Homo sapiens: one gene and its partners. The protein of the gene in region 1 interacts with the protein of each later gene in a pairwise test. Each region holds a gene or a part of one and is shown in the gene's direction. Other genes may lie near its edges. The genes, in order: MCCD1, LSM1, BFSP2 and P4HA3.

Region 1 (9,393 bases):
CAACATATTGTGTATTTCAAAATAGTATGAGAATAGCTTTAAGCATTCTCATCACATACACACAAAATATGTATGTGAGGTAATGTACATATTATTAAATTGTTTGGTTTATCCATTCCACAATGTGTGTGTATGTATGTGCATATATATATAAACATGATGTACACCACAAATGTATAAAATTAGTCAATCGAAAAATTAATTTTAGAAAGACAGAGTGGCATTGGCAAAGAATAGACAAATTGATCCACTTGAGCAGAATAGAGAGCCAAGAAATAGTCCCACATAAATACAAGGAGCAAAGACAATACAATAAAGATAGTCTTTTCAGCAAATGCTGCTGGAACAACTGGACAGCCATGTACAAGAAAAATGAAAAGAGCTCTCTTAAAAGGTTACTGTGAAAGCCACCTGTGACAGTAACAGAAAGTGCCCAGCAGGGTCTCTGACACTTAGTAATGTAATCTCTCTCACTGTAATGTAATGGCTAAACTTCAACATCCCTCAGCCCCCATCTCCATAAGACTTTCCCATAGAGGCAACAATGATTCCTGTCAGTCACCCAGTCCTGCCAATCCACTGGGTAGGATACAATATTGAGGGGCCCATCAGCACACTGGCCTTAGGGGGCTCTGCAGCCCCTTGACCTTGTGGATGATGCTGGCCTTAATCTCCTCTTGTCCGTGGCTAAAGACAGGCCCCTTCTGCGGAGACCAGGCCAGAATGCTCATCTGATTAAGACTCTATATTAAGAGTCAGGAATAACAAAAACAACAATAAATAAATAAACACAGTAACATAATCTATGTGTCTTAGTCCGTTTCCTGCCGCTATAACAGAATACTACAGACTGGGTAATTTATTTTGTTGTTTTTTCAGACAGGGTCTCTCTCTGTCGCTCAGACTGGAGTGCAGTGGCATGATCTCGACTCACTGCAACCTCCACCTCCCAGACTCAAGTGATCCTCCCACCTCAGCCTCCTAAATAACTGGGACCACAGACCCGCACGACCACACCAGCTAATTTTTGTGTTTTTTTGTAGAGATGGGTTTTGCCATGTTGCCCAGGCTGGTCTCAAACTCCTGGGCTCAAGCCTTCCACCCACCTTGGCCTCCCAAAGTGCTGGGATTACAGGCTTGAGCCACCACACCCAGCACAGACTGGGTAATTTATAAAGACAATAAATGTTTTTCCCACAGAGCTGGAGGCTGAGAAGTCCAAGAGCATGACACTGGCATCTTATGAGGGCCTGGCTGCAGTATCATCCCATAGTGAGAGGTGGAAGGGCAAAGAGGCTGAACTGATTTCTATCATGCCATACAATGGCATTAATCTATTCAATCTAATCAACCCTGAAAGGTCCCACATCGGCTGGGCACGGTGGCTCATGCCTGTAATCCCAGCACTTTGGGAGGCCAAGGCAGGTGGATCACCTGAGGTCAGGAGTTCAAGACCAGCCTGACCAATATGATGAAACCCCGTCTCTACTAAAAATACAAAAATTAGCTGGGCGTGGTGGCATGTGCCTGTAATTCCAACTACTCAGGAGGCTGAGACAGGAGAATCACTTGAACATGGGAGGCGGAGGTTGCAGTGAGCTGAGATTGTGCCATTGCACTCCAGCCTGGGCAACAAGAGCGAAACTCCATCTCAAAAAAAGAAAAAAAAAAAGTCTTGCATCTTAATACCATTAGGATAGCAATTAAATGTCAACATGAGTTTTGGTGGGGACATTCCACTTTAGCACTAGGTATTCTGGTTTATGTATTTTTTTAGCTTAATTCCTTCATTTCTACAATTATGAGATCCACGATTATCCACTATATTTGGTTTTCTTTCTTTTTGGTTTTGTTTTTTGTTTTTTGAGACAAGAGTCTCGCTCTGTCGCCAGGCTGGAGTGCAGTGGCATGATCTCAGCTCACTGTAACCTCTGGCTCCCGGGTTCAAGTGATTCTCCTGCCTCAGCCTCCCGAGTGGCTGGGACTACAGGCGTGCACCACCATGCCCGGCTAATTTTTGTATTTTTAGTAGAGACGGGGTTTCACCATGTTGGCCAGGATGGTCTCGATCTCTTGACCTCATGATCCGCCCGCCTCGGCCTCCCAAAGTGCTGAGATTACAGGTGTGAGCCACTGCGCCTGGCCTCATCCACTATATTTGAACCGACCCAAAGGCCAGTGCTTTCTTAATTAAGTTCCCACAGGTGAACAAAGCCAAAATTCAGATTCTATTTTATTTATGGTTTAGAATTACCTACTGTGAAAAAAAAAAAAAACTAGCTACTATAAATTATTGGGGGTTAGTCCATTTAGTCCATTTTGGAGTTCATAACCTAAAGCAGAAACTCACATGGTTGAAATGTCACTTTCCCAAAGGATTGTTATTAGTGTATCATTTAGATTGTCTTGCAAAAGTCTCATTTGTTGTTTTTTCTAAATGGCTGCTAATCTTTTAAATTAACAGATAGAGGGCCAGGCACGGTGGTTCACACCTGTAATCCCAGCACTCTGGGAGGCTGAGGCAGTCGGATCACTTGAGGCCAGGTGTTCAAGACCAGCCTGGCCAACATGGTGAAACCCTGTCTGTACTAAAAATACAAAAATTAGCTCGGCATAGTGGCACACGTCTGTAATCCCAGCTTCTTGGGAGGCAGAGGCATAAGAATTGCTTGAACCCGGCAAGCGGAGGTTCCAGCAAGCAGAGATTGTGCCATTGCACTCCAGCCTGGGTGACAGAGCATTGCTCTGTCCACCTCCCAAAAATGTAGTTAATTTTTTTTCTTTTCTTTTTTTTTTTTTTTTTTTTTTTTTTTTTTTTTTTTTGAGAGACGGAGTCTTGCTCTGTCGCCCAGGCTGGAGTGCAGTGGCACAATCTCAGCTCACTGCAACCTCCGCCTCCCAGGTTCAAGCAATTCTCCTGCCTCAGCCTCACAAGTAGCTGGGATTACAGGTGGCTACCACCACGCTTAGCTAATTTTTTGTATTTTTAGTAGAGACGGGGTTTCATCATGTTCGCCAGGCTAGTCTTGAACTCCTGACCTTAAGCGATCCCCCTGCCTCGGCCTCCCAAAGTGCCGGGATTACAAGCATGAGCCACTGCGCCCGGCCAACTTTCAATGTTAATTAGTTGTGGTTTGTTTAACCATATACTGCATAGTTTCGCTTATCTATAATAACAGTAGTTTGGGGCTCTTATATTCTAATAATTAAGACTTTAGCTGTGTACACATTGCAATTAAAGTATGAGTCATGCATAACCTTATCACCAAGATACAAGAGGGAAAGCCCTTCTCCCCTTAAACTTTTACAAAGGTTCTGGGTTCTTTTTCCACTTAAGTGGGAAAAAGTCAGCTAATGAGGAACGTAAAGTCTTTGGCCTCATCTAAAGGTGCTTTGGCCCGCAAGTGTGAGAAGCACTGACCGCTGGGAAGTCCTCACTGCCTGGTTCCTGGACTCTTACACCATGGCAGAGGCCATCTTCCCTCCCAATGCAGAGTGATATCCAGATAGCGAGCTGGCTAGCAGCTGTCCACTCTCCAGCAATCCTGCCTTCTGGGGCATGGTTTTCTAAGGACCTTCCTGTTCCTAGATGATCAAAATTGGGACCAGCCACTCCCTTCTGAGCCACTCCTGCCTCTGGGCCTGTGGCTATGTCACAGTCCAGTCACAACAGGACATCCCTTCAGAACACCCTGCAGGAAGCTGACATCTCTATGCAGACTCACACATGCACGGTGTGTGCACAGGCCTTTGGTTCTACTTCAGGAGGTGTTGGGGGAGGCTCACTAGTCCAACAGAACTTGAGGCCAGTTGTACCAGTGTCATATCCCAGGAGCCAAGGTTACAAGGGATACAAAGTGCCCAGACCTACCAGAGAAGGCAAACCCCTACAGCATGCAGGGCTAGACAGGGGCAAGAAACAAGGTCATTCTGGGCCAGCAAGAAGAGGGAAAGGGAAATGACAGGCATACCTCGGAGATACTGAAGATTTGTTTCCAGACCATAGCAACAAAGTGAGTCACACAAACTTTTTAGTTTCCTATTGTGCATAAAAGTTATGTTTGTACTATATTGTAGTCTGTTAAGTGTACAGTAGCATTGTGTACAAAAAACTGTGTATATACTTAATGGAGTCTCGCTCTGTCACCCAGGCTGGAGTGCAGTGCCACGATTTTGGCTCACTGCAACCTCCGCCTCCTGAGTTCAAGCCATTCTCCTGCTCAGCCTCCCAAGTAGCTGGGACTACAGGTGCCCATCACCATGCCCAGCTAATTTTTGTATTTTTAGTAGAGATGAGGTTTCACCATGTTGGCCAGGCTAATCTTGAACTCCTGACCTCAAGTGATCCACCCACCTCGGCCTCCCAAAGTGCTGGGATTACAGGCGTGAGCCACTGTATCTGGCCATATACTTTAATTTTAAAATACTTAATTGCTAAACAAATGCTAACCATCATATGAGGCTTCAGCTAATCCTGATCTTTTTGCTGGGGGAGGGTCTTGCCTCCATGGATCAGGGGCATGGCTGCTGAAGGCTGCTTTGACAACTTCTTAAAATAAGACAATGATGTTTGCCATTTGCCGCATGGATTATTCCTTTCAATATTGTTGTGCCTCAGGGAATAGGGAGGCCTGGAAAGCAGAGTCGGGAGAATGGCCAGTTGGTGAAGCAGTCACAACACACACATTTTTCCATTAAGTTTGCTGTCTTATATGAGCATCGCTCATGGTGTCCCAAAACAATCACAATAGTTAACTTCAGTAACTGATTACAGGTCACTGTAACAAGTATAATAATGAAAACGCTTGAAACATTTTGAGAATTCCACAGCGTGACATGGAGACATGATGTCTGCCTGCTGTTGGGAAAATAGCACCAATAGACCTGTTTGATGTGCTTGACACAGGGTTGCCACAAGCCTCCAATCTCTAAATAAAAAACAGCATCTGCAAAGAGCAATAAAGGGAAGCACAATAAAAGGTACATCTGCAAAGGGGAATCAGCACTTAAGCAAGGTCAGGATGAGCTTTCAAGTCAGGTGGACCTAGACATGAACCCTCCAGGCCCTACCAACAACCAGCTATGGACCTTCGAGCACATCCAGCCTAGAGCTGCCCCCAACAGACACTTCCCCAGTGAATGCTGAATGAAACCATCTGAGCCAGTTTCCTCAGGTGCAAACCAGTGAGGTAATTCCTACCTTGCAGAGTGAAGTGAGAAAAGACAGTGTTAAGAAATGCCGGGTGCGGTGGCTCACGCCTGTAATCCCAGCACTTTGGGAGGCCAAGACGGGCGGATCATGAGGTCAGGAGATCGAGACCACCCTGGCTAACACGGTGAAACCCCGTCTCCACTAAAAATACAAAAAATTAGCCGGGCGTAGTGGCGAGCACCTGTAGTCCCAGCTCCTCGGGAGGGTGAGGCAGGAGAATGGCGTGAACCCGGGAGGCAGAGCTTGCAGTGAGCCCAGATTGCGCCACTGCACTCCAGCCTGGGCAACAGAGCGAGACTCCGTCTCAAAAAAAAAAAAAAAAAAAAAAAGACACAAGACCTGTGGTAGCCTTTCCTTTCTGTCTGGCAGCAGCCACTGGGTAAACCAAGATGGTGCATACAAGTACATCCAGAAGCTATGGAAGAAGCAGTCTGATGTCATGAGCTTTCTTCTGAGGGTCCGCTGCTGGCAGTACCACCAGCTCTCTGCTCTCCACAGGGATCCCCGCCCCACCCAGCCCAATAAAGCACGCTACTGGGCTACAGCCAAGCAAGGTTATGTTACATATAAGCGCCACGGTGGCTGAAAATCTAGTTCCTAAGAAGGCAACTTAACAGCAAGCCTGTCTATCATGGTGTTAACCAGCTAGTTTGCTTAAAGCCTTCAGTCTGTTACAGAAGAGCAAGCTGGATGCCACTGTGGGGCTCTGAGTCCTGAATTCTCACTGGGCTGGTTAAAGATTCCACATACAAAGTTTTTGAGGCTATCCTAGTTGATCCATTCCATAACACTATCAGAAGGAAACCTGACACCCAGTGGTCCACAACAAGCATAGGGAGATGCGTAGGCTATCTGCAGGCCAAGAGAGCCACGGCCTTGGAAAGGGCTGTAAGTTCTACCACACTATTGGTGGTTCTCGCCATGCAGCTTGGAGAAGGTGCAATACTCTCCAGCTCCACAGCTACCGCTAATGTTTGTAAAATTCATACCTAATAAACACTAGATCAAAAAAAAAAAATCACAGACCTGTGGTAGGCTGGGCACCAGTGCTCTAAAGCAAGTTCTGCCTAAACTGGCAGGGACATTTTTCACATCAGGAACAGGAGTTGTTCCTGGACTCTGTCTGGGGCCAGGCTGGGAGAGACGTGGGGCAGAGTGGGGCAGGGGCAGGGGCAGGGCTGGGGGCTGGGGCCTGGGCAGGGCCAGGCACTCAAGTGAGGCCAAGTCCTGGAGCGAACCAGTTCCTGGTGGCCGTTGGACAGCTCACACAGCTCCCTGCCAGGTCACCCGCCATGGTCCTCCCTCTGCCCTGGCTCTCTCGGTACCATTTCCTTCGCCTCCTTCTGCCCTCCTGGTCCTTGGCACCCCAGGGCTCCCATGGGTGCTGCTCCCAAAACCCCAAAGCAAGCATGGAAGAGCAGACCAGCTCCAGAGGAAATGGGAAGATGACGTCCCCTCCCAGGGTAAGTGGCACCACAGGTAGGAACAGAGGGTGTGAGAATTTACACTGGGGTGTGGGAAAAAAAAACCCTCAATCCCACCCTGCACCACCCCACACCATGCCTACCCCTGCAGCTCTTTTCTTAGTTCAGCTACCAACTCCTCTCCCCACCTCCCCCAGCCCAGACCTCAGGGTTCCCTTCCCTCACCCCACCCCCACCCACAACAGCACAGTCCACAAAGTCCTTGAACAGGATCTATTCCCCCTCACCTAACAGTTAATTATTTCTTAGCGGGGAGGAGCAGCTGATCCTCTTTCCAGTGACCCCATATCCTTGTTCAAGGAAGCCAGTTACAGCCCCTGGGCCAGGGAACTCTATTTGCTCCCCCTACTACCACCCAGAGGCCTATGCCCAAGACAGGAAGCTACCTGGCCTTCTCAGTACAGGTGTCCTTAAACGACCGGTTCAAAAACGAATAGGGAAGGTGGAATTTCTCACTTCCAGCCACAGCCTGCAACAAAGCTTCCCAGGGCCTCAGCCCCCTGCCCTGGCTGATGCTCCCTCCCTTAATTCCCTGACCAGGGCCCTGGGACCCACCGCACAGCTGAGCTGGCCCGAGCTGAAGAGTTGTTGGAGCAGCAGCTGGAGCTGTACCAGGCCCTCCTTGAAGGGCAGGAGGGAGCCTGGGAGGCCCAAGCCCTGGTGCTCAAGATCCAGAAGCTGAAGGAACAGATGAGGAGGCACCAAGAGAGCCTTGGAGGAGGCGCCTAAGTTTCCCCCAGTGCCCACAGCACCCTCCGGCGCTGAAAATACACGCACCACCCACCAGGAGCCTTGGGATCATAAACACCCCAGCGTCTTCCCAGGCCAGAGAAAGTGGAAGAGACCACAAAGCGCAGGCAATTGGCAGGCAGTGGGGGAGCCAGGGCTCTGCAGTCTTAGTCCCATTCCCCTTTGATCTCACAGCAGGCAGGGCACCCAGGCCTTATAGGAATTCACCCTGGACCATGCCCTAAAATAACCTCACCCCAAATACAATAAAGGGACGAAGCACTTATAGATACCACAGACACATGTGTTTCATTTTTAGTTTTGTTAAAAAAAAATTCTGACAAATCAGAAATGGGGGTTCAGGAGTGGTGGTGATGCAAAAGATGGAAGCCATGGGGTGGGGGCTGTCAGGGGTGGGGGCAGTAGTGTCTCCTTCACCCCCACCCTGGTGTCCTCTCCTGAAGGACAGACGGTCACATTCCAAAATGGGCGAGTCTTCTACCGTGTCTGTTCAACTGAGAAGAAAACGTAGCATGGTCAGAATAAGGCATGAAAAGGGGAAAGTGAGGCAGGAACACACGGCACACATGCAGACACTGGTGTACTGCCTGGGTTCAGAGGACGGACGTGGGGGTGAGGGAAGGGATGTAATATGATGAGAGAAGACAAGACACCCCACATAAAGGTCAGAAAAACATCCCAACACAGCATCAAAGACCAGGGGGCATGAACCAGTCAAGTGTCCATTATGCATCAGATGCCCATGACCTATGTGATGGGATTTCGGACAAACACACTAAGGAACAGGGAGGACCTAAAGGGTTTCATGAGATCAGTACTCACTGTAGGAGGAGATGTCTATCTCATCAGGCAGCTCACTAATATTGACCTCAAAGCGATCCTGCACATCATTGAGGATCTTGGCATCATTCTCATCGGACACAAATGTGATAGCCAAGCCCTTGGTGCCAAACCGGCCTGCTCTGGCCACCTGGAGGGAGACAGAGGGTAGCACTGGAAGACCGAAGAGGAAAGAGACCCAGAGGCAGGAATGAAGATGTACAAACAGAAAACAAGGGAATGGGAGAGTGGGATTTTTTCAGCCTGTGAGGTTTACCCGATGCAGGTAGGTGTCAGAATCCTCAGGCATGTCATAATTAAAAGCAATGTTCACCCGCTCGATGTCCATGCCTCGGCCAAATAGGTTGGTAGCCACAAGAATTCGTCGTTGAAAATCTTTAAACTGCTGATACCGAGAAAGCCTTTGTGAGAAAGGAAATTTAAAACATGTTGAGATTCCCTTCTCTCAACTGTCTTTTTCTCCCAAGGACACAAAATATCTTTCCCATCTTCAGCTCACCTCTCCTCCTGGGGCATCCCACGGTGGATGGCAATGGCTGGGAAGTTCTGCTCCACTAGTAGCTGGGCCAAGGCAATGCACCGCTGCACAGACTTCACAAAGATCACCACCTGTTGTGGGGTGGGGTGGGGGGTCGCAAATTGGGGGAATAGGGGTCCATGGTGTGTGAGAGACATTACGTGGGAGAGGGGAGTTTCTAGTAATTACGTTCTCAGGAATTCCTCTTCATTTCTCTTATTCCCCCACTATATATTTAGAGCAGAAAAGGAAATATAACTTTACTTCAGCACTGATTTTTCCCTAAGGAAGCTGGCCTCTGAGGTAGCACAGAGTTCAGAAATCAAAATTGCCAGACATGCTAGGAGATGAGGATGAGATCACCTCATGAAAAAGTGATAAAAAACTAGAATTAAGATCTGGAGGGGTAACTGATATTCCTGCTCACCAAAACATTAAACCTAAGGGAGCTATCCTAATTCTAGAAAGCAGTTTTAAATGCAAATAGACCACTCACAAGTATATTAATTAAACACTTTTTTGAGATGGGGTCTCACTCTGTCCCCCAGACTGGAGTGCAGTGGTGCAATCGCAAGTCACTGCAGCCTCCA
Region 2 (6,548 bases), on another chromosome or scaffold:
TGGGGAGACACTACATGACTGTAAAGTAGTCTGCCAGTATTTTTTTTCTTCCAGAGATGGGGTCTCACTATGTTGCCCAGGCTAGATTCAAACTCCTAGGCTTAGGCAATCCTCCTGTCTCAGCCTCCCAAGTAGCCGGGACTATAGGTACATGCCACTGTGCTTGATACTGCCAGTATATAGGGGAGCTGACCCATCTCTGCATGGTGGGGTTATAGATGATTTTTAAAAATACTTTTCTGAATTTAATTTTGAAGAGGCAACGTATCAGAGGAAAAAACTTAAGTTAAAATACTGGGGTGGGTGCAGTGGCTCACGTCTGTAATCCCAGTACTTTGGGAGGCCGAGGCAGGCAGATCGCTTAAGCTGCAAGAGACCAGCCTGGGCAACATGGCCAAACCCTGTCTTTACAAAAAAATACAAAAATTAGCCAGGGGTGATGGTGCACATCACCAGTCCCAGCTACTTGGGAGGCTGAGGTGGGAGATTCACCTGAGCTCAGGGAGGTCGAGGCTACAGTGAGCCATGATTGTACCACTGCACTCCAACCTGGGTAACAGAGCAAGACCCTTTCTCAAGAAAATATTCACAGATATGCTTCTGTTTTATAGTAGTAAACATAGCAGACATGCTTTTTATACTGGTTACATTGGCACAAAGTTACATCTAAGTAGATGTGTGTGTTTGTGCAGAGAAAGAGGTGAACGTGTTTGTTCTTGAAGTTTAATTGTTTCCTTGGATCCCTTTTGTGAGGAAAAGTTCCCTTTTTTAAAAAAATATGTTATGGTTTGGATGCTGCAGAAGTTTTACAGGGGTACCACTACAGAAACTTGGTTCCAGGAATGCCTGCATTGTTATGTGAATCAGCAATCAGGAGAAATTATGTACCAACCCCAGAGGAATTCATACATAGAAATCAGTTTCTGTAAACACTATATTGGTTAAGAAATCCCTGAATTCTGCCTCAAGGACGATGATGATGACACAGCATTAAGTAATAAGACTGTTGGGAAGAAGCAGCAACAGCAGCATGAATTGCTTAGCAAGTCACATACTGAAAAGCCCAAGAGGCAGTGCATTAGGCCGAGAACACTGTGCTCTCTTTAGCTGCTACTCATGGGTTGGGAGGGCAGGTGGTAATATATACTTTGCTGGGTGCTGTTAACTTTGGACCTAGAGCAGGGCTTGCTTATGTAATTTGTGTGGCTTTCATTGTAACTTCTGTGGTGAGAGTCCTCTCTGACTGATAATGCCACTGCCTGTGAGTTCTGAGACCTTGGCAGCATGTGGTAATAGTATGCAGGGCAGAGCATCTGGAGAAGTGTGTCAGTACCGTCCCAAACTTTTATCATTGAAAGTCATAGAGGAGGGTAAGAAACAGGAATACTTTGTATAGGCTTTCCATCTTACAAAAACACCAAATAATACCTGTACATTCATTTTAAGGACAATAAACTGAATCTATGGACAGTGAGATACTTTTTTAGCAAGGTTCTTCTGCATTATGACATTGGTTAGCAAATGTTTATAAGGGCCAGGCACAGTGGCTCACACTTTGGGAGGCCAAGGCAAGAGGATGCTTGAGGCCAGAAGTTTGAGACCAGCCTGGGCAACATAGCAAGACCCCATCTCTACAAAAAGAAAAAAGATTTAATGCCAGATGTGGTGGCACATGCCTGTAGTTCCAGCTACTTAGGAGGCTGAGGCAGGAGGATCACTTCAGCCCAAGAGTTTCAGATCATGGTGAGCTGTGATTGTGCCACTGCACTCCACCCTGGGCAACAGAGCAAGATCCTGTCTCTAAAAAAATGAAAAATGTGCTCACATTGGCAGCACATCTACTAAAATTGGAACAACACAGAGAAGATTAGCACGGCCCCTGCTTAAGGATGACACGCAAATTCATGAAGTCTTCTATATCTTTAAAAATAATTAATGAAAAATGTTTATAAAACATTCAAAAATAAAAATATTAAGCATACTATGCCACATTTAAGTGAAAAAACGAATTAAAGTCAGTATTTGCATTGTGGGTTTTTGGGAGGGGTTTGTTTTTGAGGCAGCGTCTCACTTTGTTATCTAGGCTGACTGCAGTGGTGTGATCACAGCTCACTGCAGCCTCAAACTCCTGGGCTCAAGTGATCCTCCCCCCTCAGCCTCATGAGTAGCTGGGACTATAGGTACACGTTACCACGCCCAGCTAATTTTTTATTTTTTACTTTTTTTTTTTTTTCCTTTTGAGACAGAGTCTTACTCTGTCGCCCAGGCTAGAGTGCAGTGGTGTGATCTTGGCTCACTGCAACCTCTGCCTCCTGGATTCAAGTGATTCTCGTGCCTCAGCTTCCCGAGTAGCTGGGATTACAAGTGTGAGCCACCACACCTGGCTGGGTTGTTTATTTTTTTTAAGTCAGTATATATGTAGAAAAATTGTAGGGATATTATCAAAATGTTAATCCTCCATACTGGAATTATGGATAATTTTTAAATTTTCCTTGTTTGTCTATTTTCCATATTATCTACGATGAGTGTGTATTTTTTAAATAAGGAATTTTTTATTAGGCAACAATTTTTTGTTTTTTTTTGAGATGGAGTTTTACTCTTGTCACCCAGGCTAGAGTGCAATGGCGTGATCTCCGCTCACTGCAACCTCCGCCTCCCAGGTTCAAGTGCTTCTCCTGCCTCAGCCTCCCAAGTAGCTGGGATTACAGGCACCTGCCACCACGCCCAGCTAATTTTTTTTGTATTTTTAGTAGAGACGGGGGTTTTGCCATGTTGGCCAGGCTGGTCTCGAACTCCTGGCCTCAAGTGATCTGCCCGCCTCGGCTTCCCAGTGTGCTGGGATTACAAGCGTGAGCCACCATGCCCAACCTAAGCAGCAATTTTTTAAATAGTGGAGAAAAATATTGGGACCAAATTGGTTTAGTAACCTAAATGGTCTGCCGAGGTTCTCCCTAGAAGACTTGTTGCCGTAAAGGGAAAAAGAGTCTTGTTACAGTTTAGATCTAGACTACAGAGCTGGTACGGTGGCGCACACCTGTAGCCCCAGCTACGTAGGAGGTAAAGGCAAGAGGATCCCTTTTTATTTTTGTCTTTTTACTTTTTTTGAGACGGTCTTGCTGTTGCAGAGGCTGGAGTGCAGTGACACATTCATGGCTCACTGCAGCCTTGAACTTCAACCTCCCAGGCTCAAGCAGTCCTTCCACCTCAGCCTCCTGAGTAGCTGGAACTGTAGGTGAACACCACCACACCAGCTTTTTTTTGTTTTGTTTTTTGGTGGAGTTAGTTAGGGTCTCACTGTGTTGCCCAGGCTGGTCTCGAACTCCTAGGCCCAAGTGATCCTCCCACCTCAGCCTCCCAAAGTGCTGGGATTACGACTGTGAGCCACTCCACCCGTCCTTAAAATAATTAAAAAAAAAAAAAAGTCTAAGGCCACATTGCCTCAATAACCTCCCTCTTGGATTCTCTGCAGTGGGGGAGATAGCTGTCTATAAGCAGCCCTAATTTTTTTTTTTAAGGAAATTAATCGTGGACTAATAGAAAATTAATCCTGACTAATATGGGATTTTGGATCACATAAAGCTCTGTTATACAAATACTTATTACTGCCTATAATCCCAGCACTTTGAGAGGCCAAGGCAGGCAGATCATGAGGTCAGGTTTCGAGACCAGCCTGACCAACGTGGTGAAACCCTGTCTCTACTTAAAATACAAAAATTAGCCAGGCGTGGTGGCACGTGCCTGTAATCACAGCTACTCAGGAGGCTGAGGCAGGATAATCGCTTGAACCCAGGAGGTAGAGGTTGCAGTGAGCTCAGATTGCGCCACTGCACTTCAGCCTGGGTGACAGAGAGACTCCATCTTGAAAAATATATACATATACTGATCACTATTAACCTCATTGTAAGTATGTATCCTATAGTAGTGTTGTCAGGCATTTCTTTGAAAAACTTACCGGTCCCTAGGAGAAGGATATTTCAGTTCCTGTCACAGTTATGAAAAATAATCTGAGCCTGATAGAGGAATCCATTTGCCTTGAGATCTGTGCTTTCTATTCTTGGTCTTCAGGTGAAGTTTTCAAACCTGTCTCTTTTGTAGGACTTGGAAAAGGAGAGTGACACACCCCTCCAGCAAGTATCCATTGAAGAAATTCTAGAAGAACAAAGGGTGGAACAGCAGACCAAGCTGGAAGCAGAGAAGTTGAAAGTGCAGGCCCTGAAGGACCGAGGTCTTTCCATTCCTCGAGCAGATACTCTTGATGAGTACTAATCTTTTGCCCAGAGGCTGTTGGCTCTTGAAGAGTAGGGGCTGTCACTGAGTGAAAGTGACATCCTGGCCACCTCACGCATTTGATCACAGACTGTAGAGTTTTGAAAAGTCACTTTTATTTTTAATTATTTTACATATGCAACATGAAGAAATCGTGTAGGTGGGTTTTTTTTTTAATAACAAAATCACTGTTTAAAGAAACAGTGGCATAGACTCCTTCACACATCACTGTGGCACCAGCAACTACTTCTTTATATTGTTCTTCATATCCCAAATTAGAGTTTACAGGGACAGTCTTCATTTACTTGTAAATAAAATATGAATCTCAAAAGTGTCATGTTATTTCCAAGTTTGAGTTACCTGTAATGAATAGATTAATAGATTAATTAAGTTTCTGCTCTCAAAGGTATAAGCAGTCCACATACTGGGATTTCCCCCTTCAGTCACAGTTTCAAGTAGCTGGCTACTTAGGAAGGAATATTTTTATTCCAGTCATCTCAGGGGTCCTCTCCTGTTTCCATGTTTGTATCTGTTAAGAAATACAAATGTTCGGCAGGGGCGGTGGCTCATGCCTGTAATCCCAGCACTTTGGGATGCCGAGGCGGGTAGATCACCTGAGGTCGGGAGTTGAAGACCATCCTGACCAACATGGAGAAACCCTGTCTCTACTAAAAATACAAAATTACCAGGGCGTGGTGGCGCATGCTGTAATCCCAGCTACTTGAGAGGCTGAGGCAGGAGAATCACTTGAACCTGGAAGGCAGAGGTTGCGGAGAGCCAAGATTGCACCATTGCACTCCAGCCTGGGCAATGAGCGAAACTCCGTCTCAAAAAAAAAAAAAAAAAAATATAAACGCTCAGGCGTGAGGAGGGAGCTTTCAGCTGTTTCCCAGTTACTGGTTACTGCAGAAGACTCATGTTTGAGAAACGACATCATGGTTGCTCTTGCTCCTGCTTCGCCCATGGCTATTCCAAACTAAGTCCCCACGAGACCCAACATGTTCTTACAGTGGCTTGTTCTCCAGGTTTTCTGCTAATTTAATTAGGTGTTCTAGTCCTTTGTATTGAGTCTTGAGTATCTTAACGTTCTCATCAAAAAGGAACATAAATGGTATTGTAGTGACTGAAAGCCCATAGTGATGGCACTTTGTGTGACTGTCGAAGAGTAGGGATTGCATGAAAAGCTTAACAGATTTGTACTTCAAGAAGGAAGCATGGGCCGGGTGCAGTGGCTTACACCTGTAATCCCAGCACTTTGGGAGGCAGAGGCAGGTGGTTCACCTGAGGTCAGGAGTTCAAGGCCAGTCTGGCCAACATGGTGAAACCCCGTCTACTAAAAATATAAAAATTAGCATGGTGGTGCATCCCTGTGATCCCAGCTACTCGGGAGGCTGAGGCAGGAGAATTGCTTGAACCCGGGAGGCAGAGGTTGCAGTGAGCTGAGATTGCACCACTGTAGTCCATCCTGGGCGACAGAGTGAGACTCTGTCTCTAAATAAATAAATAAAGGAATCATGGTTTAGTAGACAGTGGGCTCAACTAGGAGTTAGGAGATACCGTGTGAAATTGGCAATTATTGGCAGATTAGGCTTGAGTAAGTCATCCTCTGATTCTCAGTAATTTTAACTGATTATTCCAGGTAGTTCCTTTTTATATTCTGTTAAGCAAAAATGTTATTTTCATAAATTTTATATCTAATTTGTATGTGTGTGATTTATTATTATTATTTTTTTTTTCTTTGAGACAGAGTCTTGCTCTGTCGCCCAGGCTGAAGTGCAGAGGTGCGATCTTGGCTCGCTGCAACCTGCACATCCCAGGTTCCCCGAGTAGCTGAGATTATAGGCACGTACCACCACACCCCTCTTTAATTTTTGTACTTTTAGTAGAGACGGGGTTTCACCATGTTGGCGTGGTGGGTTCCCGAACTCCTGACCTCAAGTGATCCTCTGGCCTCGGCCTCCCAAAGTGCTGGGATTACAGGCATGAGCCACCACGCTTGGCCTGTATGTGTGTGAATTATTTTATAGTATTAACATTTTATGAGCTCAGGGGTTTTTAAAACTGCCCAAAAGGCCTACAAACCATTTGACTTCTGAACTGTTCATCATTGGGCTGATTTTATAGTAGGTAACTTATGAGGAAACTATTGCACTTAATGGCTTATCTAATGTTTTGCCCATCTTACTGTTTAATAGAATGTATTATTAACTACCCACATAAAGAGAAGAAATACCAACTTTTGAAAAACGTGTGACTACAGTAAGATACTCTGAAGTTCAGCA
Region 3 (5,546 bases), on another chromosome or scaffold:
CAGGTTCAGGAGGCAGCCAGTGGCTTCATTTTGGACACCTTGATGTGAGGTCTGAGTATATGTTTCCAGTAAGAAGTTCAGTGGCAGGTCCATAGCTACTGAAGGAAAGATTGGTGGTGGAATTATCAACGCAGGACGTGGCCTGGAGACGACTCATGAGTATGTTCAAATCATGAGTATGATGGAGACCAACACAGACCCAGGATGCGCTCCTTGGAAAAAAAGCGGGCTCAGGGTGGGCACTGGGAAGCCCAAAGTGAAGGGACGGCAGAGGAAAAGGGATGGGCAAAAATGTGCTACTAAAACACCAAAGGGGAAAGCGCTGAGTATATAAAGGCCAGAGACATTCATTCTAAGGACAGTGATCTGGGAAAGAAAGCTGGAGGAGATGGTGTTCCAGCCAAATGATGGATGGGGTTTCAGCAGCAGAGGGAGAAGGGGTCCCCCGGGGAGTGAAGAAATCAGAAGAAAAAGCCCCGGAGAACAAGATTTCTTTGAAGAAACGCCTGCAAGCTGCCTCTCATTTGTCTCTCTCAATCCCTATCCCTCTTGCCCCGCTCCTCTCTCTCCTCACACCCCCTTTCTTTTCTCCCTCCCTCTCTCCTTCTCTTTTTCGCCTCCCTCACCCTCTCTCCCATCAAAAAGATCAATCAGACTAATCCACAGTCTGACCTGAGTGGGATTCCTTATTTTTCCCACGGAGCCACTAAGAATAACCCCCATCAGTCTCCATAACTGGCAAGGTCCCTGCCACGAGGGGAATAGTCCAGGCTACCACCAGCCCCTGCCACTGCTCTGCACACCTCCCTCTTCAAGGGCCCGGCCTGTTGTCCTCGGGTTTGGACCGGGTTCGCTCTTTTGTAGAAACGAGGCCTGGAGAACACCTTGCACGATGCCAAGCACTGGCATGACATGGAGCTCCAGAACCTGGGCGCTGTGGTCGGCCGGCTGGAGGCGGAGCTCAGGGAAATCCGAGCGGAGGCGGAGCAGCAGCAACAGGAGCGCGCGCATCTGCTGGCCCGCAAGTGCCAGCTGCAGAAGGACGTGGCGTCCTACCACGCCCTGCTGGACAGGGAGGAGAGCGGGTAAGCCTCGCTTCCGCGTCAATTATCCAAGAGATGCATATTCATGGCTTTAAAAATAATTATTTTCCAAACACTGTAGAAGTATTTAAGAAGAAATCACCCCAGACTTCCTCTCACATAGGCACCCATTCCCACAGCCTAGCTGTGTCCTTCCTTTCCTATTCACATACAAATAATATATATAATATATTCACATACTAATACATTTTCTATATGTATGCATATTTATGTATGTATATATACACACATACATTCACATACATGTGTATACCTAGGACGTACATAATAGCTGTTAGGAATGTTTCAGTTGCTTGTAATAGAACCTAATTAATGAGGCTATAAACCAGTGCTCCTGAAACTAATGTGCACTCAAAACCCTGCGCATCTTTTTTTTTTTTTTGGATACAGGGTCTCGTCTCGGTATGTTGCCCAGGCTGGTCTCGACTCAAACCCCTGGGCTCAAGTGATCCTCTCACCTAAGCCTCCAGAATAGCTGGGGTTACAGGTGTGAGCCGTGACACCCCAGCTGGGCATCTTTTTTAAATGCAGATTCTGCTTCAGTACGTCTGGGGTGGGGTCTGAGAGTCTTCCTTTCTAACAAGCTCCCAAGTGATGACTATACTGCTGCTCCACAGACTACACTCTGAGTAGCAAAGATGTGTAAATCATTTATTTAAGAGTCCCAGAAACAGGTGATCTAGGCTGCTCAAAGATTTCATTAAGGACTCAAGCTCTTTTCATCTTTCTAACATACCATGACAACATTGGCTTTTTGTCTTTATCTTTGTCACCCCATGGTTACCATATGCCAGCCACAGATCCAAACATCACATCCTCATTCCTGGCCGGAAGTGGGAGAGAAGAGGCAGCAGCAAAAAAAAAAAAAAAAAAAAAGGCTTTTTCTTTTTTTTTATTGATCATTCTTGGGTGTTTCTCGCAGAGGGGGATTTGGCAGGGTCATAGGACAATAGTGGAGGGAAGGTCAGCAGATAAACAAGTGAACAAAGGTCTCTGGTTTTCCTAGGCAGAGGACCCTGCGGCCTTCCGCAGTGTTTGTGTCCCTGGGTACTTGAGATTAGGGAGTGGTGATGACTCTTAACGAGCATGCTGCCTTCAAGCATCTGTTTAACAAAGCACATCTTGCACCGCCCTTAATCCATTTAACCCTGAGTGGACACAGCACATGTTTCAGAGAGCACAGGGTTGGGGGTAAGGTCACAGGTCAACAGGATCCCAAGGCAGAAGAATTTTTCTTAGTACAGAACAAAATGAAAAGTCAAAAGGCTTTTTCTTGAATGATCCTCTCCTTTAATCAGTGAAGGAAAGACATTTTGAGGCTTGCAGTGGACTGTCCCTTATATCTCATTGGCCAGAACCTGCTTATACTGGCCATACCCATCTGCAAGGGAGGCTAAGAAAGCAACTCTTTAGCTTTTCCAGACTCCATAGTGGAGGCAGGCAAGGGGTTGGGACTAGGAGTTGAGTTAGTCTGCCATAATTACACACACACACTTGCACTCACTCTTTTTTTAATAGATAAGGATTCCAGAGGCATATACATCAGCCTTGGGCCTTAGCTTCCTTGCCAACTCTTTCCAGAAACCCAGGCCCTTATTTTGTATCATAGTTCTATGCCTTCTTATTTCCCTCCAAGACTCCTTGTCTGACATATGTTGAATAAGGAATAGAGACAGCTTAGTGATTGTATCATCCAACCCCTCCTGATTCAAGAGAGAACACAAAGACCCAGAATGGAAAAAGATTTGCGCATGATCACACAGGAGGCGGAGACAGCACTGGGATGGGAGCCCAGGTCTCCTGCTCTCTCCAACTGTGTAACCTCTCTTTATTCAGAAGGCGGGAGAGCCTCAAGGAAGCGACCTAACCACGCCCTGCTTTCAAATGGAAAATATGTCATCCAGCTCCTCTCCAACTGTCTTTTATTGAATTGATTTTTGTTGATTATAAAAGCCAGATGTTCCTAACAAAGTATTTTTTTTTCAGATGCCTATGAGCATCTGTATAAACACACAAAGTCAATTTAAACAAACAGCAAGAGCAGTGAGTTAGGCCGAGTTACTTCTTAAGAATCTATGTGCTACGTTCATTTAGTGAGTGCCAAGGCAGACCTGACTCTTGATTATTTTTGTTTATCCTCCAAACCCTGCCAAGACAACCTCATGATCCGTGTTTTAGAGACAGGAAACAAAGCCTCAGAGAGCTTAAGTCATGGCCCAAGGTCTCACAGCAAATAACCATGGAGTAATTATTTAAAACCCAAAACTATCTTGTTCCAAAGGCCAGATTCTTTCATGAGATGGCCCCCTTTCTCGTAATCCTATTGTGATAGAATGACCGATTTTCCTCACCCATTGCTTCTGACTCCTATGTGTTTCCTTTCAGCTGATGGAGAAACTTCCTCTTTTTCATGAAGAAAACACCCTTCCTCAACAGCTGACCCAAGAAGTTGCTTGAGGAGCTTTCTCCTGAGCTCCAGTCCCTGCTGGATTCCCTGGTTAATTCAGCTTGAGCTGAAAAGCTTCCTGGAAGTGGAGAGGATCCTTCTGCTTTAATCTGAGTAGTCTGTAGCTTGAGCAATCTCCCTTGTCCTCCTTCAAATAAATGCTTTGTGCGCAGCGTCCAGTTTGCCCACCTTGTTCAACTCACTATAGGGTCGAGATGGATATCACTTTGTCTGTCTGGCCTTTGCTCACAGAGCTATGCTTGAAGGCTTCTGGAAGGATTCCCTTGAGTGTGACGCCATCTGCCTCCCTAGGGTCACCTGCTCTTGGGTTTGTCAACATAAAAGTGCTGCGGAGGCAAAAGCAGTGCTCATGGCATGCAGGATTGACGCAGTCTGGGACAAAAAACAACACTCTTGCTCGAGAGGGGATTAGTGTGGTGCTTTATCACATGTTTCATAATTACAGGCATCGTGGAGTATTCAGACCTCTTTAATATACTCTGCATGCATATTCATGTGCAGACACACACATTTCACTTGCTATTGGCAGAGCATCTCTCAATCAGTTAAAAGGGAACTTCAATCTAAGCCCAATCTAAACCCATTCAATCTAAGTGGGGGATTAATTACACTGTGGTTGCTCACCCCACTTACAGCCTCAGAATTTTCTTCCAGGGTCCTTTCTCCAGTTCTCTCAGGGCCTAAGCCAGCCAAATATAGTTCATGCATCTGCCACCTACCCAGGCAAGACTCTCTTGCCTTCTGATTAAAATTGAAACCACCACCTGTGTCCTACCACAGGTTCTCAGTGTCTCTAAAACTGAAAGGAAAAAAAAAAAAAAAAAAAGCCCAACTTTAATTTTGTCATTCCTCCCTCAAACTTCTGTTGGTCTACCTATCACACAGAATTACAGACCAAAATATCCAAGCTGAGTCTTTGTGTTTGTGAGCTGCTAATCCAGACAGGGGGATGTATCCAACACTGGTACATTTGAAAACCCCCATACCCGAGGGTCCAAATAACCAAGGCCCACACAAAGAAAAGAACATTTATTTATCCTTAAGGATTGCTTATAAGAGAAGCAAGGTGGCCAGGCGCGGTGGCTCATGCCTGTAATCCCAGCACTTTGGGAGGCCAAGGTGGGCAGATCACAAGGTCAGGAGTTCGAGACCAGCCTGGCGAATATGGTGAAACCCCGTCTCTACTAAAAATACAGACGTTAGCCAGGCTTGGTGGCGGGCGCCTGTAGTCCCAGCTACTCAGGGGGCTGAGGCAGAAGAATCGTTTGAACCCAGGAGGCGGAGGTTGCAGTGAGCCGAGATTGTGCCACTGCACTCCAGCCTGGGCAACAGAGCAAGACTATCACACAAAAAAAATAAATAAATAAAAGGCAAGATATATGGTATCCTGGTTGGAATTGCTACAACTGGTTTTCCTTTTTGGCCTGCAAGAGCAAAGGAATTGTATTAAAGATCACATGAGCAGAACCACTATTTACAATGTGCATAGCCCCTTGACATAGGTCAGTTTGTTGTTTGAGACATGGAAATAGGCAAGACACCCTAAAACTACATTTTAGCAAAGTATCCATCTCCATAGCTGCACACTATGGGGCTGCCCATAATTGAACCGCCTGGGTACAAGAGTCTTGCCAGAAAACAAAGTGGGTGGCTGGCCTTGCTATGTTGGATGCACAAGACACTGACGTCTGTTTCTTTTCTGTCTTTCTTGTTACTATTAATTTTTGGTCCCTCAGGCAAGACCTAAATTCCTAACCTAAATGTAGCTGGAGGCTTCAAAGGTGACAGTCCCCAAAAGGTCAGCCATCAAAAGGAGGTACTTCTATGACCGAATGGCCATGCAGTTTTTAGAACCTGGAAGTCGTTTCAGCCACTGGAAAGACGGGAGAATGTATCTGCGCATCCTCCTGAGTTTCCACCAGACAGCATGCTGTGCAGGGCTGCACACACTTGGTCTCCTCCGCACCATCATCTCA
Region 4 (9,893 bases), on another chromosome or scaffold:
TTTTGAGATAATTAAGCCCCACTGGTGAATTGGAGCAAACAGGTTCAGCTTTGCAGTGAGCCAGCAGTAGTAGCTTTTGGCCAGCAGCTGCTTTTTCCTTATAACAGCCCTGTTGCCATGGTAACGGGAGAAGTGACCCACCCAGAGACGTTGATTTAAATGTTCATGGCCATGTCGTCCATTTAGCATGCACAGATCTTGGCACACTTCCTTCCCCTAGAAGTGTCTCTCTGGGGCTGCTGATGCCTGTCTGGTCTGTGGCTCTCCCAGGAATCAGCCCTGGACTGACATGGTAGTGGCTTCCCCATGGGAACTGAAGACAGATGCCTCAGTGGCTTGTGTTGAATATCTCTGCTTCCTAGTCACTGTCCCTTTCCCAAAGCACACTCACTCATCACTTCTCTCTCTCACCACATCCTGCCCATCTTTGAAGACTCAGTTGAAGCCCTGCACCTTCGCTGGGCCCGCTAGCCCTGATCATTCTGGCCTCCTTTGGTTCTTTTTCAGAGCACTTTTTGGAGCCATATACAATTACCTATTCCTCCTCTGAACTCTAAGCTTTTTCTCACTGGTTGTTTGGTACTTAATTTTTAAATGTATTCTGCCATTTATGTGTTGTTTGACATCACTGACAGTTTCCTGGGTCAGCATCCTGTCTCCCCAGTCAGACTGTAAACTAGCAGGCATCATCTTTCTGCAAATGCCTTGCCCCATGTTCTTCCCATTGCTGCCAGAGTAAATCTTTAAAAGGTCAGGTCTGACCACTCAAGCCCTTGCTGAAACTCTTCACTGGGTCACTTTTGCCTTTGAGTGCTTACAAGTCTCCATGGCCTGGCTGCTGCCAACCCCTTCTACCACATCTCCCCCGGCACTTGACGCTCCAGCTGCACACTCTTCTGTCTGCCTGGAACGAACTGCCCTTGACTTCTCACCTGTATGATTCCAGTGTGTCTTGTGGACATCCTGGAAAGACTCCCTGTCCCTCATAAGAATGGGCTATGTGTCCCTCTTTCTATTGCCATGGCATTCTATACTTGCCTATTATGGCCCCATTAGATGTCTTAGGGGCAGGGACATTGTCTGGATTAACATTGTTTTTCCAGTGCCTAGCACAGTGCTTAGCACAGAGAACAACCAATAAATATTTGTTCCAAAAAACGAGTGACTGGTAGGTAGACAATTAATGATTGTTACAGGAAATAAATATAAGGTGACTCCTTAATTTGGGATGGGGGGGATTCCTTAGGGTTTTTTTTTGTTTTTTTTTTTTAAACCATTGATTTTGCCCTAAAAGAACAGAAGGGAGCATCTCTCTTCTATGAGTTTCTCCTCTACAAATGGCTCAGGACAGGACACCAGGGACAATGGATGGAGGCAACATCAATCCCCTTCTGATTTCCTGCTTCCTAAGATTGTAGAGCCACATGTGAGAGGAACTCGCAAGCACATGTTGTTCATAAGCTGCATTTTATTTATTTTTTATTTTTTTGTCCCAAACTTTTATTATTATTATTATTATTATTATTATTATACTTTAAGTTTTAGGGTACATGTGCACATTGTGCAGGTTAGTTACATACGTATACATGTGCCATGCTGGTGCGCTGCACCCACTAACTCGTCATCTAGCATTAGGTATATCTCCCAATGCTATCCCTCCCACCTCCCTCCACCCCACAACAGTCCCCAGAGTATGATGTTCCCCTTCCTGTGTCCATGTGATCTCATTGTTCAATTCCCACCTATGAGTGAGAATATGTGGTGTTTGGTTTTTTGTTCTTGTGATAGCTTACTGAGAATGATGATTTCCAATTTCATCCATGTCCCTACAAAGGACATGAACTCATCATTTTTTATGGCTGCATAGTATTCCATGGTGTATATGTGCCACATTTTCTTAATCCAGTCTATCATTGTTGGACATTTAGGTTGGTTCCAAGTCTTTGCTATTGTGAATAATGCCGCAATAAACATACGTGTGCATGTGTCTTTATAGCAGCATGATTTGTAGTCCTTTGGGTATATACCCAGTAATGGGATGGCTGGGTCAAATGGTATTTCTAGTTCTAGATCCCTGAGGAATTGCCACACTGACTTCCACAATGGTTGAACTAGTTTACAGTCCCACCAACAGTGTAAAAGTGTTCCTATTTCTCCACATCCTCTCCAGCACCTGTTGTTTCCTGACTTTTTAATGATTGCCATTCTAACTGGTGTGAGATGGTAACTCATTGTGGTTTTGATTTGCATTTCTCTGATGGCCAGTAATGGTGAGCATTTTTTCATGTGTTTTTTGGCTGCATAAATGTCTTCTTTTGAGAAGTGTCTGTTCATGTCCTTCGCCCACTTTTTGATGGGGTTGTTTTTTTCTTGTAAATTTGTTTGAGTTCATTGTAGATTCTGGATATTAGCCCTTTGTCAGATGAGTAGGTTGCAAAAATTTTCTCCCATTTTGTAGGTTGCCTGTTCACTCTGATGGTAGTTTCTTTTGCTGTGCAGAATTTAGATGGGGAAACAGGCCCAAGGAAAGGAAGAGGCTTTTCCAAGACTGTCTATCTGGTTTAGCAGGAGGGACAATGACATTATGGAAGCTTCAGAGAAGGGAAAGAGCTTCTGTCTGTGTAGCTCATTGCCCCAGGCACTGCTCTGCCTGCCTGTGAAGCACCAGAGCTGGGTCTGAGCCCTGTGAGTACCTTTAAGGGCAGTGCCCTATTTCATTCATTTGTTTATTTAACCAGTACTAAGCACCTACTCCACCACCAGGTGTTGAATGGACCCTGGGGATACAGCACTGAAAAAAGGCCAAGTCCTTGCCCTCATGAGCTGACATTCTGATGACAGAGGCAGAAGTAGACATGTTTACCCTCATATAAATAAATAATATTTCTCTTTCTGTCCCTGGATTTTGCAATTAGGAGACACTTTATTTAAAAATAATTTAGGCCCGGTATGGTGGCTCATTCCTGTAATCCCAGCACTTTGGGAGGCCGAGGTGGGAGGATCCCTTGAGACCAGAAGTTCAAGACCAGCCTGGGCAACAAAACAAGACCCCGTATCTACAAAAACATTTTTTTTTTAAATTAGCCAGGTTTGGTGGCATGTGCCTATGGTCCCAGCTATTTGGGAGGCTGAGGTGGGAGGATTGCTTGAGTCTAGGAGTTGGAGGCTGTAGTGAGCTATGATCGTACTAGTGCACTCCAGCCTGGGCAACAGAGCAAGACCCTGTCTCTAAAGATAATAATAATAATAATTTAAATGCTATACCTAGACATTCAGAACAAAAGAGAGGCATTTAGTTAAACTAGTGTTATCAAAACTGTTGTTGTCTTTTCATAATCAAGGCAGTTGCAGCTATGAAAATCTCACAAGTACCCTCAACATCTGTAACTATTATATATCAATTTTTTAAAAAAGTGGTTGTAGCAAAAACAGACTCTGATTCTCTGTAAGGAAAGGCTTTCATTAGAATATTCAAAAGGAGCAGGCTGCCTCTGAGTGTAGAGAGTTTCCTGTTGCTGGAGGTGTTCATTTAATTCGACAAACACTTACGAAGTGCTTACCATAGGTCAGGCCCTGTGCCTGACCCTGGGAAACAAAGACGAATGAGAAATAGCCCCTGTTCTTACCTAACTCACAGTCTTACAGATACAAAAGGGATTCAAATAACAGTTAAATTCAACTCAGCAAACTTTTATTGAGTGCTTACTGTCGACTAGACACAGTGTTAAAGGTTATTTTCAACTCTACGATCTTTGGTCACTTATGATCTTTTATTTTCAGGATTGATAGCTGTCACTAAATTAGTCCCACATGCAAAATGTCCTCTAATTAAGGAGGAACTGGCATCTGTTATGTTGATGCTTAAGAGAGAAATATGTCTGTGGAAGTGACAAAACTTTCCTTTTGCATCATAACCACTTGGACTTTGTCTTACATTCTTCCCACCAGCTACAGAGGTCAGTGGTGGCATCAGGGGAGAAGCAGTTACAAGTGGAGTACCGCATCAGCAAAAGGTAAGAAGGGCCCTTCCTTGGTCATACCTGCTGCCCACCCTCGGGCCGTAGCATAGCTGACTGCCAGTCAGCAACAGCCATTCAGGGACCTCCAGAGGTGGAGAATCCCTAGTTCACGTTTATAGCTGTACATTCTTTTTAAGAGGGTGAAGTTTCCACTCCCCTTTCCCAGGTTGTTAGATCATCTGAGGGTTTAACTAGAAGGCCATTCGAGAGAGACTTGGAAGAGCTCCTCTGCCCTAAACCAAAAAATATGTCTATAGTTGTTCTCCTAAACAGGATTGCTTTTCCAGAAGATACAGTCCTGTCCACATTTGTAATTTAACTTTACAAGATTCCATTCCCACCTCCTGACTCATATTGAAAGCATGACTTGCCAAGAATGAGACCAGAAGGACAAATAGACTCTGGCCCTGATGGCTTCTGTAGAGGAGCAGATTCAGCTGTGAGAGCCCAGCTTTATCCCACCCCTCCAGCCCTGCCCACCCCCCACTGCAGCCCTTTACTTACATCCACCAAAGACATGTGAGACAGTGACGTCAGCATCCTTGGGGGGAGGCCAGACCTCAGGATGGAGATCAGTTTGTGCTGTCTGGGAAGGGAGGTGAGTGATGAAAGCTGTGATTCAGAATCATTTGGCTTAACTTACTTGGTCTGGTACATTAAGGGCCTTTCATATTAGTAGTTATTCTCTAACCTATGGAAGGTCCCTATGACCTCAGCCTCATTGCTTTTTCTAACCTTTCTGATATTCTAGTGTCAGAGAGAAAATTCAGCCTTGGGTTAATTGCTTCCAGGGGAGCAGGTGGTATTTTCTTCCCTTTTCCGAACAAGAAACTACTTTCTTTCTCCACTTGCATCACTCTTCAACTCTTTGACTTTTGGTTCTGTCCTCACAACTTCGCTGGAGCTGGTCTCCCAAAGGTCACCAGGGAACTTCTAATTGCCAAATCATTTTCCTGCTCACACACCTTCACTGAGTACCCATTATCCATAAAGTCCAGATTCCATATCACAGTGTTTTCAGTTTTCTATGTCATGCCCTGAGCCTGCTTCTCCAGCTGTATCTCCCGTTACTTCTTCCTATCTCCTTATTCATAATTTATTGCCACACCTCCATGTCTGTGCTTATGCTGTTTCTTCAGGCTGGAATACTCCTACATCTTTTCCATCTATTGAAATTTTATGCACTCTTCAAAATTTGGCTTAAATGTCACTATCTTACCTGAGTGCCCCACTGGAATGAACTTCTCCTTCCTCTGTGCTTCCCAGCACTTTAAAGTCTGTTTCTCAATTTTTCACTGTACCTTACTTTGTTCTTAGTTATATTTGTGTTTGTCCTTTCCCCCATAATCCATGAGCTCTTAGAAGGCAATAGCTCTGTCTTGGGGATCTCTGTAACCTAAGAGCATGTGGCATAGCACTCTGCTTGCACTCTATTTGAAAGAATGAACACACTAATCCATCAAAAGCAAAGAGCAAAGAAATGGTCTTCCATATCATGCCAAGGCTGTTCCCTCAGAGCCTTATCGTCTCCCCAGGAGACCCACTGGCTTTAGGGAGCACTTTCTCACTTCCCAGGGACGTAAATTCTGATTCCAAAGTTGCCACTTTGTCAGAACCTCAACAAGACATTCAGGAAAAGAGACTGAACTCTGCTGTTTGGCCTTTGCCCTATCCTGGCTTGTCTTGCAGTAGAGCAGAGATTTTCCTGTGTTTAAAAGTAACACTAATGTATAGTTCACAAAGTGTCTTCATAAGCATTGCCTCTCACAATCTTTATAAGTCTGTGAAGTAGATATTATTATCATCCCAATTTTATAGACAACACACTGACCCTTAGAGAGGTTAATGGTTAAATACTTGACTTAGGATCACAGAGGATCAGGGACTCGTCACATTTCTCTAAATCACAAGCTTTTCCCACTGTACCCGGGTCCCTCTGTTCAGATGTCTCTACACCATAGCAGCTTTGAAGGCAGGGGTTTTGTCTTATTCCTCTTTGTATCTCAATGCTGTGAGTTTGTTGAGGTAGAGAACAAAGTGGACTGGGCAGACTTAACATGAGGAATGCATAGGTAATTAGGCATTTATGTCTGTCTTCCCTCCCTCTCTTTCCTCCTTCCTTCCATCCTTCCTTCTGGCAATTAACATAATTCATTTGTTTATTCATTCATTCAGAGACGTCATTTAGTCATTTCGGGCAACAGATCATTGATGCTTCAATCTGTGGTGTGTTTTAGTGCCTGGCTGAAGGACACTGTTGACCCAAAACTGGTGACCCTCAACCACCGCATTGCTGCCCTCACAGGCCTTGATGTCCGGCCTCCCTATGCAGAGTATCTGCAGGTGGTGAACTATGGCATCGGAGGACACTATGAGCCTCACTTTGACCATGCTACGGTAATGGTGGAGTCAATGACCAATCCCCTGGGGTAGGGAGCCAGGGCATTATTTATTTCTCTGAGGCAGAGCTCTTGTAGGCTCTCAGGGAATACTAAGTGAAATCTTAGAACAAAGGTTCTTTTTCCAGAAATATCTGAAAGCCTTAGTTTCAAGCATATTGTTGCTGACTCATTTTCTTGTCTGCCACCATCTCCCTTCTAAAATTTGCTGGTGAGGGAAGAATGTGGCTTGTCATGGAATCATCGGACTGCTCCACTCAGGGACTTCCTAGTGAGGATTGTCCTTCCTCCAGTAACTCTTCTAGCCTCATGATCTCAACTGGCCATCTTTGCTGATAATAGCAAATAATTTTTTTAAAATTTTAGATTCATGGGGTACATGTGCTTGTTTTTTATTTACGTATTTATTTATGTATTTATTTTTTTCTTTATAGGCAGCATCTTGCTCTGTTGCCCAGGCTGCAGTGTAGTGGCACCATCATAGCTCACTGCAGTCTTGAACTCCTGGGCTAAGTGATCCCCCCATCTCAGCCTCCCAAGTAGCTCTAGGACTACACCTGGCTAATTTAAAAAAATTTTTTTTGTAGAGACAAGGTCCTGCTATGTTGCCCAGGCTTGTCTTGAGCTCCTGGGCTCAAGCGATCCTCCCACCTCAGTCTCCCAAAGTGCTGACATTACAGGAGTGAGCCACTGCACCCAGCCATACTTGTTATATGGGTATTGCATGTGTAATGGTGGGGACCACACTTCTAGTGTACCCATCACCCAACTATTGAATGTTTTACCTGACACGTAATTTTTGAACTCTCACTCCCCTTTCACCCTCCCCCATTTTGCAGTTTCCAGTGTTTGTTACCTCCATCTTTATGTCCATGTGTACCCATTGTTTAGCCCCCACTTATAAGTGAGGACATGCAATATCTTATCTTCTGCTTTTGAGTTAGTTCACTTAGGATAATGGCCTCCAGCTCCATCCATGTTGCTGCAGAGGAAATTATTTCATTCTTTTTATGGCTGGATAGTATTCTGTTATGTATATATACCTTATTTTCTTTATCAAATCAACCATCGATGGACATTTAGGTTGGTTCCATGACTTTGCTGTTGTGAATAGTGCTGCAATAAATATCTGGGTGCAGGTGTTTTTTCTGTAATATAATACTTTATTTTCCTTTGGGTAGATACCCAGTAGTGATTTTTGAGGATTAAAATGACCTCCCCAAAATTGATCTATAAATTGAACCCCAGCTTTATAAAAATTCCAGGAGGTTTATTTTTGTAGAAATTAGCATGCTGATCCTAAAATGTATATGGAAATGCAAAAAACCTAGAGCAGCCAAAACAATTTTGAAAAAGAAGAACAAATTGGAGGACATACACTATCTGATCTCAAAACTTAATATAGAGCTACAGGAATCAAGGCAGTGTGGTACCAGTGTAAGGAGAGACACATATGTCAATGGAACAGAACAGAGTCCAGAAACAAACCAACACATTTATGATCAATTGGTTTTGACAAAGGTGCCAAGGAAATTCAATGAAGAAAATACAATCTTTTCAATAGACAGTATTGGAACAATTTAATATCTATCTGCAAAATAATAATGACTTTACACCCTTACCTTACACCATATATGAAAATTAACACAAAATGGGTCATAGATGTAAATGTAAAACTATAAAACTTCTAGAAGAAAACATAAGAGAAAATTTTTGTGACCACAGGTTAGGCAAAGATTTCTTAGATATGACACCAAAGTATGATCCATAAAAGAAGAAAACAACTGATAAATTGGACCTTATCAAATTAAAATTCTTTGCTTTTCAAAAAACATCATTAGAAAAGGAAAAGACAAGCCACCAACTAGGAGAAAATATTTGCAAATCATATATTTGGTAAAGAACTTGTATCCAAAATATCTATAGAACTTTTATAACTCAGTAATAAGATAATTCAATTTTTTTTAATGGACAGAAAGTTATTTGAGTAGGCACCTCTCCAAAAAGGATAAATGAATGGCTAAGAAACATATGGAAAGATGCTCAACATCATTAGGGAAATGCAAATTAAAACCACAATGAGATAGCACTGCACTCTCTTATGATGGCTACAATAAAATAAGATTATACCAAGTGGTGGTGAGGATGTGGAGGAACTGAAGCTCTCATACACTGCTAGTGGGAATGCAAAATTATACAGACACTTTGGAAAAAAGTTTGATGGTTTCTTAAAAAGTTTAAGATTCACCTACTTATGATCCAGCCATTTCACACCTATGTATATTACCCAAAAGAAAAAGAAAATATGTCTCTACAAACATTTGTACAGAAAAGTTTATAGTAGCTTTATTTGTAATAACCAAGAATTGGGGCTGGGCACGGTGGCTCATGCCTGTAATCCCAGCACTTTGGGAGGCCAAGGCAGGCGGATCACGAGGTCAGAAGATCGAGACCATCCTGGCTAACACAGTGAAACCCCGTCTCTACTAAAAATACAAAAAAAAAAAAAATTAGCTGGGCATGGTGGCAGGCGCCTGTAGTCCCAGCTACTTGGGAGGCTGAGGCAGGAGAATGGCATGAACCTGGGAGGCAGAGGTTGCAGTGAGCTGAGATCACGCCACTGCACTCCAGCCTGGGCAACAGAGTGAGACTCCATCTCAAAAACAAAAAAAAAAAAACAAAAAAAAAACCAAGAATTGGAAACAGCCCAGATGTCTGTCAACAGGTGAACGGATAAACAAATTTTGATATATCTGCACAATGGAATGCTATAGAGAGAAAGCAGATAAGTGGGTTGCCTGAGGTTGGAGGTGAGAGCAGGGATTGACTCCTAACTGGCATGAAGGAGCTTTTCAGCAGATGGAAGTGTTCTGTGTTCTAAACTTCAATTGTGGGAAAACTCATTGAACAGTAGGCTTACAAGGGGTGAATTTTATGGAATATAAATCATATCTCAAACTGTTCCATGACAAAAAAAAAAGAGTATGTCTCTTCAGCAAGTAATTGGAACTCTGGCCTTATGATTTGGTATTTCTACAGAATAATTGTCTGTAATATTTTATATATTAATTTCTATATTTCACAGAGAACTCAAAGGTGCAATTAACCCCTCATATAGTACTTTCACTACTGACAAGTAGTTCTGTTTGGTAGTAGACAATTCTTTTATATAAGTATCTAATAAATTAGTAAAAAAAAAAATTGTATTGAGTACCTGCCAGCAAAGACGGGCACATACTCCAGTAGGTGTATATCAGAACTATATCCCATCTTTGATGCCCCCATTTTACTTCTATTTGTATTAATAGTGGAATCCTGCCTGTCCCTCTGGTGCCATCTGCATAAAATAATATGTTCTGTTTTTTTTTTTCTCAGTCACCAAGCAGCCCCCTCTACAGAATGAAGTCAGGAAACCGAGTTGCAACATTTATGATCTATGTGAGTATTGCTCTGGGCTTCTTACTTCATGACTGAC

The links.
Region 2: the proteins of MCCD1 (region 1) and LSM1 interact in binary tests that used the Homo sapiens proteins (3 or more experiments, as listed by UniProt).
Region 3: the proteins of MCCD1 (region 1) and BFSP2 interact in binary tests that used the Homo sapiens proteins (3 or more experiments, as listed by UniProt).
Region 4: the proteins of MCCD1 (region 1) and P4HA3 interact in binary tests that used the Homo sapiens proteins (3 or more experiments, as listed by UniProt).

What each region holds. Positions count from the first base shown.
Region 1 is NC_000006.12:31,522,511-31,531,903, forward strand, and holds MCCD1 (mitochondrial coiled-coil domain protein 1 precursor), read left to right. Parts: upstream 1-6,451; 5' UTR 6,452-6,504; coding exon 6,505-6,675; intron 6,676-7,236; coding exon 7,237-7,425; 3' UTR 7,426-7,722; downstream 7,723-9,393. Other genes in the region: spliceosome RNA helicase DDX39B, read right to left, coding at 7,924-7,940, 8,269-8,416, 8,543-8,687, 8,786-8,895.
Region 2 is NC_000008.11:38,161,388-38,167,935, reverse strand, and holds the end of LSM1 (U6 snRNA-associated Sm-like protein LSm1), read left to right. Parts: intron 1-4,095; coding exon 4,096-4,266; 3' UTR 4,267-4,597; downstream 4,598-6,548. UniProt on the Homo sapiens protein: Plays a role in the degradation of histone mRNAs, the only eukaryotic mRNAs that are not polyadenylated. Probably also part of an LSm subunits-containing complex involved in the general process of mRNA degradation.
Region 3 is NC_000003.12:133,471,481-133,477,026, forward strand, and holds the end of BFSP2 (phakinin), read left to right. Parts: intron 1-864; coding exon 865-1,085; coding exon of another isoform or gene 1,086-1,089; intron 1,090-3,488; coding exon 3,489-3,492; 3' UTR 3,493-3,728; downstream 3,729-5,546.
Region 4 is NC_000011.10:74,273,508-74,283,400, reverse strand, and holds part of P4HA3 (prolyl 4-hydroxylase subunit alpha-3 isoform 1 precursor), read left to right. Parts: intron 1-3,948; coding exon 3,949-4,013; intron 4,014-6,256; coding exon 6,257-6,416; intron 6,417-9,793; coding exon 9,794-9,856; intron 9,857-9,893. UniProt on the Homo sapiens protein: Catalyzes the post-translational formation of 4-hydroxyproline in -Xaa-Pro-Gly- sequences in collagens and other proteins.